Linked DNA regions of Homo sapiens. The protein of the gene in region 2 interacts with the protein of the main gene of each other region in a biochemical or structural test. Each region holds a gene or a part of one and is shown on either strand. Other genes may lie near its edges.

Region 1 (3,500 bases), on a different chromosome or scaffold from region 2:
GATTAGTGGTGTACTGATGTTATCTGCTATTATTCTTATCATCACTACCTGTACAGGAAATGCAGAAATTACTAGATCTGCCAAAAGAAGCCAATAGAGGTCAAAAGACAACACTCAAATGACAGCTCCTACTCGTTGCAGGGGTTTGCGATGGCTGAATGCGTTCCCACACGCCATCCCCTCTAGGCCTCCCAACTGTGATGTGGGTGTTATCTTCACCCAAATTTTACACAAGGGGAAACTGAGGCTCAGAGAGGCTACTGCAGAACTAAGACATGAAGCCGCATCTCTAACATCAGGCTCAGGGCTTTTCCCCCAGGGCTCTCGAATTGGAGGGTGCTACGGACAGGCACCTACCCAGTCTACAATGAGGATCTTGCTGGCCTTGCTCTGCTGTTGCAGCTGCCGGCAGGCGATGGCCACTGAGTTGAAGAAGCAGAAGCCCCTGGAAGGAGAGACAGGTCCTGCCAGCCCATTCTCTCCACATGCCCTCACCTCCCCAGGCCCCTGGGTTGGCCCAGCCTGAGAAAGCTCAGGGAAGAAGAGAGAATGTCCCTGAAGGAAGTTCCTGGGGGCTTGCCCCCCACCTCATCCCACCCAGGTCTTCCCTTAGCCTTACATGGCTGTTGAATGATCTGCATGGTGTCCTGGGGGCCGCACCACAGCGAAACCATTCTGGAAAAAGAAAGAATGCTTGTCAATCAACAGACAGCTCTGACCCACAGCTGCATGAACGTACCCCAAGAGTTCCAATCTCAACCTGGTTCCCAGAGCCCTCAATTTCCCCTCCAAAACCCTGTAGCAATCTCTAAGAGGAATGCGATGCCTGGGGTTCTGGGCCTGGATTCCCCACTACCCCACTCTGCTTCCTCCTTTGTGGTGTGTCCACCTTCAACCCAAACCTCCTACCTTTAGCTCACGAGAAGCCACTTTGAAGGCGAGGTCAGTGACACTGCCAGCGGCCCAGCGGGCTGCATTGGAGGAATGAAGCTCATTCCAGATGGTGTCAGTGTCCACCTGCGGGAGCCAGAGTCAGGGCCCGCATCATCCAAGGCTTCACACAGGAGCCAGGGCCCAAGGGGGTGGTCCCCACCCCACGGCCAGGACCCCAGGGGCAGGGAGCTGGGCAGACAGTGCTGCCTCCCCAGTGCCCCACCGCCCAAAGGCAAGGCCTCCTGTGTCCCCCAATCCCAGCATGACTTTTTCCCAGCTTAAGTCCCAGCACCAGCCCATTATCTGGCCAGCACTCTGCTGGCAGCATCACGCCTGCCTCCCCGGTCAGGGGAGGGGGCATGGCGTTACCTGGGCGGGACTTGGGGTTTGGGCCGGGAGGGGGTTTTAAGCCCCAGCTGACTCTGCTCAGGCCCTGCGGGACGGTCGGAGCTGGAGGGGCCGTCTGCACCACTGTCTTCCACTCAGGGCCCCTAGCCCAGGCTGGGAGGCCCCCCAAACCCAGTCCCTGGGCCTCAAGGCTAGGGAGGGGCCGGGGGGCATGATGGGGAGATGGGGAGGGCGAGGCAGACCAAGAGAGGCGAGGAAGGCAGAGAGAGTCGCAAGAGGCTGGAGAAAGAGAGAGAGAGAGAAAGACAGAGAGGGAGAGGAGGGAGGAGAAAACAGAAGCAACAACAGTTGGAAAAACCAGAAAGTGGCAAGAAATGGGAAGTTGTGAATAGGGCACTGACTGGCTCCCAAAGTCCCCCACCAGCTACAGCTCCCACTTTCCCTCCGGAATGAGGCCTCCATCCCCTGCCTCTACACACCTTGCTTGAGAAACTACTGCAGGGATAGTGTTAGGCGAGGAGAGCTGAGCCGGAGGGAGCGGGAAGCTCCCTTCACAAAGGGGTGAGGACTTAGGAAGCAAAGCTCGCGAGCGGAGTTTGGGGCTATGTCCCGGAGTGGGGAGTGCTGGGATCGCCAAGGACACCGGAAGCACCACCGTGATGTCACACCAGGCAGCCCAAGGTCTGGGGACCAGGCTGAGGTACCCCAACTTGCCACTTAAGAGCAGACAGAGCAGCCTGGCGGCCAATGCCCAGTCATGGGGGTCTTTGAAGGGAGAGATGATCCTAAGCCCCAGCCTTGGCCCTGCTCCTGAAACCTCACTCAACATCTACCAGACACCTTCTAGGGGAAGGCTTAGGCTGGACTCCGCATTCGGGGGAGACTGTGGGTCCGAGACACGCCTGTCCAAAAGGAGCTTCCTGCTGCAGGGGGCACCTCAGGAAGTCCCTGGCTCACCCTGTCTGGCAGAACCACAACAAGCAGAGGTTCTGCAGGGGCTGGGCCTGGGAGAACCACAGGGAGGAGAGCTGAGAGCCCTGGCAACGCCCCCCTGAGACCCCTGGGCACACTTACCCCAACCCCACCACAGGGCAGCATCACAAACATCCGCTGTGCCAGGAGCCCTGCGGGGAGAGGCCCAGCCCACGTCAGCGTGAATACTCTCAGCCTTTGGCCCAACAGGGAGCAGGGAGCCCAGAGAGCAGGGCCGGGTGAGTATTGGGGGAGAGAAATATGGAAGGGAGAGGTGGAGGTGGGCTGAGGAGGGGCTTGGCAGCAAGCTGGAGTAGGGACGTCCAGGGTGCAGGAGGAGGCTGGCTGGGCGGGCAGAGCCGAGACAGGAGTGCATGGGAGCTGGGTGAGGTAAGCTGGCATGGGGAGACAGGGCCACTAGGCCATTACCTGCCAGCTTCCCGTTGTCCAGTTTGAGGCGGCTGAGCGGGTTGGTGCCGTAGAGGAGCACGTGCCGCTCAGAGTGGACCGACTGCAGCTCTTCCAGGGAGGCCTTCCGGCCTCGGAGACACTGAAAAGGGGACCACAGAGCTCTGAGCTCATGCTCGCCCCTTCCCTCCCATCACCACCACCCCATGTGCCCCTCATCTCTCATGGGCCCCAGGGCCCCCCACCCCTCCCCTCCCATGACTCCTCCCTCCACCCATTCCTCGGGCCCCACCCGCGCCTCCTCACCTCACACTGGCTCCGGAGCCCCCGCTCCTGCAGCCGGGACCAGATGCTCTGGATGCGGCCGGCGTGCTCCGGGTGCCTGCTGTTGTCACCGCAGGAGCACTGGTGCTTCAGCATGACCGAGTCATAGATCAGCCCTGCAGGAGCAAGGGTCAGAGCGGGGACCCAGGGAGTCCTCACGCCCCATGGCCTTGGCTGCAGAGAACACGCCAGCACCGCCACAGCAGGCACCCACATGGAGCCGGGCGGGTACACACCCCTCACACCCACACAGGCCTGCATTTCATCCTGCCCCTACCCCAGCCCCAGCCCCTCACACCTGTCCACACACGCCCAGACACTTCCCCAGGTGGCAGCAGCCAACACATCAACACAGCTCCAGCCAACATGGCTGCCACAGAGCCACGGCCTTCCCACATGCGGACACGACTGCTGGGTGGCCCAGGACTCGAGGGCCCAGCACCAGGCCCTCAAGTGCTCAGAGCAAAGCATGAGGCCTAACGTACAGCATCTCACACACGTGTCATGAACCCAGA
Region 2 (3,236 bases):
ATGGATCCAGTGTACTCCCTTTTTTTTTTTACAAAACTGGTAATATTATTATTACATAACACTCTTGCCTATCATAGTATTAATAATCTTTTCTGTCCTTTGTAGGTATGTGGACAGGATGAGGAGATTGAAGCATGCTCCATTTTGCTACCTTGAATAATTTATCTGCAAACAATTCCTCTTGTTCTTGGGAGAATGAATGTTCCTTTGAGGGATGCTGCAGTGAAGGATGATCCAAATATGAGATGTTTAGTGTGCATTCTGGACAGGCATTACTTCTCAGAGTATTAGGTTCTTCTTTTCATGAAGATGAGGAAACTTAAAATCATCTAAAATCCATGCTCTCTGCTCATGCTTTAATTTTTTAACAATTTGTATTAGTTTTTCTTTTCTAACAAGGAAAAGTTTGAAAGAGCAACTGAAAGAAGATCCTTCTAAAGCTATACCTTGGAGGAACACAATTTGATTAGGTTTAAGGAAAGTCAGTATTTATAGGCTTGTTTTCATGAAAAATAAGCTTTATTGAATCCCTTGAGGGGAAAAGCATAATTTTACAGCTTAGGTTTCTTCCTTCCCCAGTGATACTAGTTTCTCAAATTTTATCCTGAAATAAAACCGTGGGCCGATTGAGAAGCTAGATGGGCAGATGCGTGACAGATCACCATTGTCCCTGGTTGTTACATTAGAAAAGAAAGTTGTAACAGAAGGATTCTTTTTGTCAGCCTCTCTCCTAAAGATTCTATAGAAAGGTTCAGGAGTATTTTGATTGTTCTCTACAATAAAACCTAGGTTGTTCTCTTAAAAAAAATTTCAGGTGTTTTCTCTAAACATTCTCTAACATTTTAGGCTTTCTCAGCTTAGGATGAGCTTCTCAGGTGGTTGGATATTAGGACTGTACGTTATAGCTGACCACAGATTCTAATCTTGAAAAACTGCTTCATGAGACTGTAGAAGATAGCATTCTCTTAAGAACTTTCCAAAACTAAATGACTACTTACTATCCCCTGGGCTTATGAATTCTGTAAAGAATTAGCAGCTTTAGGTAGAATATGGTCAACTTTTTCTGAAGGTCCTTATTTAGAAACAAAGGAATACCCAAAGGTCTGAGTTGGCTGCCTGTCTAGATTACTTTTTCTTTTTTTTTTTTAAAGAGGCATCTTGTTCACTTGTTCATCAATTAATGCTCTTGAATCATAATTTTTATTTCAATGTCCATTTCATAAGAAACCTATTCACTGAACATTAAAACAGAAGGCTGTAAGAATGCAACAGACTGAGTGAAAAAAATACCCTTCCAAATAGATTTCACACGTCAATCTCCATCAGAGAAACATTTCCCATCTTAATGCCTCCCTTTAGAAGTAAATAATAATAATTTGAGATAAACTACACTTCTTCCACACCTAGATATACAGGGTTTTAATGCTAAAAAAAAATTGTATATTTTTCATGAGAATTTCTCTAACCCCGAATTTTGTAAATAAACCAGTTTAAACATCATTAGTTTGTTATCTATCCTCTATGTGTTACTTCATCTAGATATATACAAAAATTTGGAATGAATAAATGTTGGTTGATAAAAATATTACATAGCTGCTAATGGGATTTTTTAAGTGCAGCAAATTAATACTTAAAAGTTTGGTTCTGCTTATGGCAAGTTTTGTGTTTAAAAGAATTAAGTGTATATATATATATCTTCATATCCAGTCCAAAGAGGTCAGAAGAATATTTACAAAATAAATATGTAGGGAATTTTAGAATTTCATTGATTCAGATGAAGTGATAATTCCTTAATTAGCATAAATCTTTAGATTGTATCAACTATTGTATGCCGTATAAATTACTCTGATCAGTATTATTTTTTTACTGGTTAGAGTAAGAAATTACTCTTAAAGACAAAATCACTAAAAGACAGTTGTGGTTTTGATGAATTGCTATATAATACTTACTAAAGTTAGTTATGGGTATAGGCCTTAACTACAATTTACTCAACAATATATAAACTAAAAATGTCTTCTCCACTTCCTCAAAAAATTTAATTATTTTATTCAAATTTTGAAACTTTATTACAGCAAAATTCTAATTCAAAGTCCTTGTCATTTAATTTTAGTTTTCCAATACTTTCAAAGAAAACTTGGCTATAATACTCCTCTTGGTAAAGTTTCTTACGCAACTTTATGTGTTGCAAGAATACTATAAAATTTTAACTAACTAGAGTAGGATAAAATGCCAGTGCATATAACATCTGTTGCATTTATAATACTTCAATGTAATGTGCAGACAATGAAGTTAAGGTTTGCTGAAGATCCATTGTTCCGTGAGGCTTAATTCCTTTTCCAAAATTATAATTGGTATATGTGGTTCAAGGTAAAGTAGTTGAAAACTTCACAATTATACTTATTAAATATATTTCTGATTAAAAGTAGAATGTGCCTGTGAAAATCTGAAATCAATAAAAGAAATGTTAGCTATTTTAGAATGCCAAAATTAATATTTAAAAACAAACTAAGAATAAAGGGAACACCGAGACTTGTCTTAAAGAAGCTGTTTGTCATTCTTTTTTTTTTTAGATTACAACACACATACAATAAGTGAATTTTATCAAAATACAGCACATTTCTTCTACTATATCCATAAAAATCAATTCCTATGTAAATAGTACTGAAAATCAACTAAAATGAGTTAAAATTTACAAAGAGTTGTTAAAGGGTTTCAATCAAAATTATTAAAACTATACAGTACAATAACCAATTGATAACATCTTGAAAGAAGTGCAATATTTGAGTTCACATATTTTTAAAAGTGCTGCCTACTTACTCTGACTAGCAAGAATGGAAAGTGAGTCCAACTCACTTTTGCAAAAATAATGTTGGTTGGTGTTTTAAGCTAGTCTTATAAAAGTCTTAATTAAAATCAAGGTTGATAAACAAAGCATAACAGATTAAAAATTCCCAAATTGCATTTCTTAGTAAATAAAAATGAAGTGCAATAACCAAATATTGCTCTAATGAAAGGTTCCAGACTAGCCTCAACTAAACAGTTATTGGTCTTCTATGGCACTTTTTTCTGGTCCAAATAACCATGCATTAATCCTTACCATTACATGTTACTCAAATTTTATTTGATTACATAGAACAAAAACAAATAAAATTAATGGTCTGGATAAACAAAATTAATAAACCTCTATCATCAAATATTTGTTACAGTAACTAGGAACAAAGAAAGGCAGTTGGTGG
Region 3 (3,500 bases), on a different chromosome or scaffold from region 2:
AAAATTCATATTTTGTGATCTCCAGATATAAAATTCTTAGTTTTCAAAGAAATGTATGCTGAAGATTCTAGAGTGTTTGGGTAGAGACTGCCTTGGTAGATGAACTGCAGGATCCAGGTACAGGAAGCTCAGCCCACATACTTAATTTCCCTTAATATAATGAGCAGAATGTTCTCTTGGTAACATATGAAGTATTCAAACATGTGTAATCCACTTGTTGGTTTTGGTTTTCAGTTAGTTATGGAGTGGCATATTTGTGATGTGCAGACTACTAAGAAGGACACATTATTCCTATCCTATTTTAGCAGTTTAGCAAAGTTTTAAAAGAAATTTGTATTCTTAAAAAAAAAACACCAAAATTCTTTTTTTTTTTATTATAAGTTTTAGGGTACATGTGCACAACGTGCAGGTTTGTTACATATGTATACATGTGCCATGTTGGTGTGCTGCACCCATTAACTCGTCATTTACATTAGGTATATCTCCTAATGCTATCCCTCCCCCCACCCCCCATCCCACAATAGGTCCCGGTGTGTGATGTTCCCCTTCCAGTGTCCATGTGTTCTCATTGTTCAGTTCCCACCTATGAGTGAGAGCATGCGGTAAAAACACCACAATTCTTAAGTCTGCTTTTCTGGTAGCCATGTTTGATTTGCTAGATGAAATAGGAAATACATTTTGCATAAATGGACCTTCCATTTGCAATAGGGATTTTTTTTTTTTTTTGAGACAGAGTCTCGCTCTGTCACCCAGGCTGGAGTGCAGTGGCATGATCTCAGCTCACTGAAACCTCTACCTCCCAAGTTCAAGTGATTCTCCTGCCTCAGCCTCCCGAGCAGCTGGGCTTACAGGCATGCACCACCATGCCAGCTAATTTTTGTATTTTCAGTAGAGACAGGGTTTCACCATGTTGGTCAGGTTGGTCTCAAACTCCTGACCTCAAATGATCCACCTGCCTCAACCTCCCAAAGTGCTGGGATTATAGGCATGAGCCACCAGGCCCGGCCAGCAATAGGGATTTTTAAAGTATAGAATTCTCTCTCTTTTTTTTTTTTTATCAAGACGGAGTCTCGCTCTGTCACCCAGGCTGGAGGGCAGTGGCGCTATCTGGACTCACTGCAATCTCTGCCTCCTGGGTTCAAGCAGTTCTCGTGCCTCAGCCTCCCTCCCTGGGATTACAGGCATTTGGCTAATTTTTGGGGTTTGGTTTTTTTTTTTTTTTTTTTTTGAGACAGAGTCTTGCTCTGTCAGCCAGGCTGGAGTGCAGTGGCGCAATTTCGACTCACTGCAACCTCTGCCTCCCACATTCAAGGGATTCTTGTGCCTCAGCCTCCCAAGTAGCTGAGATTACAGGCGCGTGCCACCATGCCTGGCTAATTTTTGTATTTTTAGTAGAGACGGGGTTTCACCATGTTGGCCAGGCTGGTCTCGAACTTCTGACCTCAGGTGATCTGCCCGCCTTGGCCTCCCAAAGTGCTGGAATTACAGGCATGAGCCACCGAGCCCGGCCTTTTTTGTGTGTTTTTAGTAGAGATGGGGTTTCACCATGTTGGCCAGTCTGGTCTCGAACTCCTGACCTCAAATGATCTGCCTGCCTCGGCCTCCCAAAGGGCTGGGATTACTGGTGTGAGCCACTGCACCCGGCCAAAATTCTCTTTCTTTTGATTACTTTTGTGTCTTCACATAAATTCTGATTTTCCTTTTTTTTTTTTTTTAAATCCTCTTCAATTGCTTGTCTCAGAAAGAAGTGAGAAAGTAAGAGATTGCATGTAAGATATCACGAAATCATACATGTGATGTGTGTATGTTTAAACTGCTACAAATAAAAGATCTTTACTTGTTGAAGGAGGGAGACCAAGAATGATAATAATAGGTATGACTATTGGCATATTACCCTTTGTTATTTGAGAAATTAAAAGAGATCTGATTATGTACTTAACTAATTATGTACTCATGGCCTACAGGTAGAGAGTGGAAATAGAAATGAGGGGAAAATAATGGGAAATATGGCATTAAACAAAGGCTCTTTGTCAACTTTTGCTTGGAGGACTCTAATTTTAATTTTATGATCCCAAGCATATTATAAAAGCAAGATAGTATACAGCTGTGATATGAAAGTCTTAAGTTGAAAATTGTGACATTTAAATAGAACACATACTTGTTTTCCTCATTCCCAAATATTTGCTATTGAGCAAACTTTGGATTACTTAAAAAAATCCATACCAAATAAAGTTCCTTAATTACTAAAAGGTGATTTTACTTCTCTCTGAATTCTATCCATACTTACTTTGGAAGTCCCACCACGTCCTCATAAAATAATTTAATTTTGTTGAGATTTTTCCGCAACGTGACATGTACTAAATTGATACTCAGCAGTCTGCTTAAAATATTTTCTCAAAGGTTCATGCCATGTAACTGTTCCTCTCCCTCATGGAGCTTATATTGAGTATAATCCATCTAGTGTTTCCAGGAATTAACCCAAGCATTCCACTGAATTTCACACTAATACCCTATTCCTATTAGGAGAACTCTATTATAGCCTCAAACATTTGGTTTGTTGGTATGTGCCAAACATGTTTGGAGGCTTACTACATGCTGTATCTCATTTAATCCTCATGACTCTGTGAGGAGGGTACCAATATTCCCATTTTATAGACAAGGAAACTGAGGCACAGAATTTAGTTAAATCTAATTTGTCCAAGGTTATAGTAAACACTGAAGGTCAGATTTAAGCCTAGACAATTTAACTCCCTATATAAAAGTTACAGATAAAAAATAACATTTTAATTTTTACTGAGCCTTATTTTTTGTTCGAATTCAGATTCTTGCATAAGTGGTAATGCTGTTGTATTTAAAAGCTGTTCTTGTGCAGCAGAGCAGTAAACTATGTCATTTAACTCATGTGTCAATTAAAATACTTTCCTGATTCACTAAAATGAGTGGATGACAGAAGCCAAAAGTAATCACAATAAAAATATTTAATATTAATATGCTTAAACACATAAGCATATAATGTGTGCATAATTTTACTTTTTTTTTTTTTTTTTGAGATGGAGTCTCGCTCTTTCACCCAGGCAGGAGTACAGTGGCGCGATCTTGGCTCACTGCAAGCTCTGCCTCCCGGGTTCACACCATTCTCCTGCCTCAGCCTCCTGAGTAGCTGGGACTACAGGCACCCACCACCGCGCCCGGCTAATTTTTTGTATTTTTAGTAGAGATGGGGTTTCACCGTGTTAGCCAGGATGGTCTCGATCTCCTGACCTCATGATTCGCCCACCTCAGCCTCTCAAAGTGCTGGGATTACAGGTGTGATAATTTTACTTTTAATTCTTTTTTAAGAGATGGGGTCTCGCCCTGTCACCCAGGCTGGAGTGCAGTGGCACAATCTCAGCTCACTGCACCCTTGATCTCCTGGCCAGCCTTAAGCAATCTTCCTACCTCAGCCCTCTGAGTAGCTGGGACTACAGGTGTGTGCTATCATGCCTGGCTATTTTTTATAT
Region 4 (3,500 bases), on a different chromosome or scaffold from region 2:
TAAGACTGTTCCTAATGGGTGAGAGAGCTGAGAGCCATTGTTGAGGACTGGAACCCTGTGGCCAAATATCTACTTTGTGCCAAGAGAAATTCATGTCTGATTGAGACTGCCTAGTGCTCAGAGTGACAGAAGATGTTCATATGTATTTAACACCTGTATTTAAATGAGTAGTTAAACATAAACATGTCATGGAGGTGAGAGATGAGAAATTACTTAATGGGTACAATCTACACTGTTTGGGTGACGGTTACATTAAAAGCCCAGACTTCACCACTCTGCAATATATCCATGTACCAAAACTGCACTCGAACCCCTTAAATTTGTACAAATAAATAAATAAACAAACATAAGCTGAAACAGACTGGCAGAACTAAAGCGGAGACAATGGCCTGAGACAGGCTACAGGAGAAAAGAGGATAATAAGTGACTGTTTAGTGTAGAAGCTGATCTGGATTAAATTAGGAAGCAGGTGTTAATGGATGCTTGAATTTTTTTGTTTATCATTTGCACTATATGGCCTTACTGTTCAAAGTGTTGTCCGTGGGCCAGCAGGAGCAGCACACCTGGGAGCTTTTTAGAAATGCAGGATCTCAGGCCCCTCCCTAGATCTGCTGAATAATAATCTTCATTTTAACGAGTTTCAGGTGATTTGAGTGCACAGTACAGTTTGAGAAGCACTGACGTATGTGGTTTCTTAGTTGAACTTTTGCCTAACAAAATTCTCTGTCCCTTCCTCCTTCCTTCTCTCCCTTGTACCACCTCTCCTAGTTTCCCAATCTTAGTTTCCTTGTGATCTGGCACATAACTCTAATCATGGCTGATAGCCCCAAAAGTAGTGTTCCCAATATATCCAGATAAAGAAAAGAAAAGAAAAGAGTGGTCAGATATATATTGTAAAGCACAGGTTTGGGCAGTAGGAAACCATTGACTTGGCCTCTAATTGTGCTGTCTGTATAACTTTTGTCAAGTTCCTTGACCCTTCTGAGCCTCAGTCTGTAAAATAAGGGTCATTATAGTATTTACCTCATAGTGTTGTTGTGAGAATGAAATGAAATGAGGGGAAGGTATGTAAACTGCCTAACACAGCGCCTGACACACAGTAAGTGCTCAGTATGTGGTAGTCATTATTATTGAAAGCCATCAGTTCTGAAGTAAACTTAGAACTATGTTATGATTCCAGACTTTCAAAGTCCCCATGAGTCTTTCTGGAGAGCCTCCGGAAAGCCCTGTGTACCTCATCCAGTTCAGCTTTCTTGACTCCAGTACCAGCAGTCAAGCAAAAGTATTTCTTATTCCCTTGGATTGTCTTCTTGTTTTTGCTGAATTACCAAGATTTCCTACTTTGTCATTGCAAATGGCCCACATTTTTAGTACATTAAAGCTAAAAACATCTTTTGTGGGCTGGTCTGGAAATGTAGTTCAATTTATAACAATTTTTTTCTCCTATGGAAAAATGCATGTCACCTTCCAAACAATTGACTTGAGAGTGAACTTTGAGAGCTCAGCCTGTCTGCAGCTTGGAGGCTCCCTGTATGTCAATATATGGAGTGGTCACAAAGGCTAGGTAAACCAAGTCCAGAATTCCAGAGGTGGCTGAAAGACAATTGACAATGCTACAAGGAGTGGAAAGTAGGGCAAATGGATCAATCTGCGTGCACAGTATCAAGATTTAGAAAGCTAATACAGGAAGGGAGATATACCTCTGGAAGGATATTAAAAAATAGCCACAATGACAACACAAACCATTTTTTTTTTTACTATATTAGGTCAGGGGCCCCTAATCGGTAGCTTGGGATCTACAAACAATATCAAGGCCTTGCAAGCTAACTCTCCAACATGATCGCCCTTCTCCTGCCCTGCTCTCTGCAGTTTACCTGGATTCTCAGCTCAGAGAGGAAGACAGTAAGCAGCATCTCCCCAATCCTCTTCACTCCCACACCCTGGTAGCCAGCCCCCAGATTCAGTAAACTTCCCTCTACCTTTAATTTCCGTCTTCCCAGGGAGATCAAGGCATCAGGAATATACAACACAGTTTTTCCTTACAAAAAGGATGAGGACTCCTGTATTGGGTAAAATAAGATGACTGGTGAAAACAGGGCCCCCAGGATGGAGAGGGCTGGAAAGACAGTAAGAAAGGACCATGAAAAAGCAAAGGACTTTTGTGCCTTCTCCCTGAAGTTGTTAGCAAGAAAACCAATTGTATCTGGGGGAACTCTGGGTTAACATGGCAGCAAGATAACACAGTCTGATACCCACCATCTAGGAATGCCCATTAAAATATCCATGAAGCTTTGCAACAAAAAACTAAAACTTGCACTAGCTACGGAAAATAGGGGAAAAGGGACTGTTAATTGCTAATGGAGAAGGAATTTCTGCTAGCTGTTGTAGGGAGATGGGGTTGGACTGAGGAACATATTTATAATCTACATACACTCTACCCTCCTATCCAGAACAGCAAAAGTGCCCAACAAAGTTGGGGAAAGATTTTGATTCACTTCTACCAACTGTCCTTAGATTGGAAATACAGAGGCTCATCAGAAAACCAATGTCATCCCTTTACTATAAAGAAAATATTTTCAGAGGCAACAACAGCTCTGTTCCACTTCTTCTACCATCAATTCCTCTATTTTATTTTTTTCTCTTTCTTTCTTTCTCCTTCCTTCCTTCCTTTCTTTCTTTCCTTCTTTCTTTCTTTCCTTCCTTCCTTCCTTCCTTCCTTCTTTCTTTCCTTCCTTCTTTCTTTTGTTTGTTTTTGAGACAAGGTCTCATTCTGTGGCCCAGGCTGGAGTGCAGTGGCACAATCACAGCTCACTACAGCCTCAACCTCCCAGGCTCAAGCAATCTTCCCACCTCAGCCTCCTGAGTAGCTGAAACCACAGGTGCATGCCACCACACCTGGCTATTTTTTTTTTTTTTTTTTTTTTTGTGGAGATGGGGTTTTGCCATGTTGCCCAGGCTGGTCTTGAACTCCTGAGCTTAAGTGATCCACCCGCCTCAGCTTCCCAAAGTGTTGGAATTACAGGCGTGAGCCACCGCATCTGCCCAGCTCCTCTATTTCCTATATGCTTTGTGGAGACCACAACTTGAGAACACCATGTGGCTGGTGATGGTGGTAGCGGTGGTTGGGGCCAGAGATTGTTATGGTTGGGGCCAGAGATTGTTATCGGGAAAAGTTCTGAACATAAGCATGCTTGCAGACATTATATCTGAAAAAATGTAATGTGTAACATGTAATTTCATATTACATATATAAATATGTAATATGTAATTTCATGTAATATGAAATAATGTAACATGTAACAAATTGCAGAGTTGAATGACCCAAAAGATCAGAGATGGAAGATTCCATCTATCTCAGTCCAGCCAAACCTAAAAATAATGATAGCAGCAACAATAACACTATCAACTGCCACCAGTTGCTGGGCAATTATTATATGCCAGACACTATATTAAGTACTTAACATGTCATGCATTATCTTACATACTCCTCATAGTAAACA

What was found.
Region 1: the proteins of ERBIN (region 2) and HDAC7 interact in a test that uses a peptide from one of them, tested with the Homo sapiens proteins (one large-scale study listed by IntAct).
Region 3: the proteins of ERBIN (region 2) and FLVCR1 interact in a test that uses a peptide from one of them, tested with the Homo sapiens proteins (one large-scale study listed by IntAct).
Region 4: the proteins of ERBIN (region 2) and NCBP2L interact in a test that uses a peptide from one of them, tested with the Homo sapiens proteins (one large-scale study listed by IntAct).

What each region holds. Positions count from the first base shown.
Region 1 is NC_000012.12:47,788,904-47,792,403, forward strand, and holds part of HDAC7 (histone deacetylase 7), read right to left. Parts: exon of another isoform or gene 3,102-3,500; coding exon 2,968-3,101; intron 2,804-2,967; coding exon 2,683-2,803; intron 2,406-2,682; coding exon 2,356-2,405; intron 1,018-2,355; coding exon 910-1,017; intron 676-909; coding exon 620-675; intron 446-619; coding exon 358-445; intron 1-357. UniProt on the Homo sapiens protein: Responsible for the deacetylation of lysine residues on the N-terminal part of the core histones (H2A, H2B, H3 and H4).
Region 2 is NC_000005.10:66,079,811-66,083,046, reverse strand, and holds the end of ERBIN (erbin), read right to left. Parts: 3' UTR 501-3,236; downstream 1-500. UniProt on the Homo sapiens protein: Acts as an adapter for the receptor ERBB2, in epithelia. By binding the unphosphorylated 'Tyr-1248' of receptor ERBB2, it may contribute to stabilize this unphosphorylated state.
Region 3 is NC_000001.11:212,864,775-212,868,274, forward strand, and holds part of FLVCR1 (choline/ethanolamine transporter FLVCR1), read left to right. Parts: intron 1-3,500.
Region 4 is NC_000023.11:107,784,233-107,787,732, reverse strand, and holds part of NCBP2L (nuclear cap-binding protein subunit 2-like), read right to left. Parts: intron 1-3,500.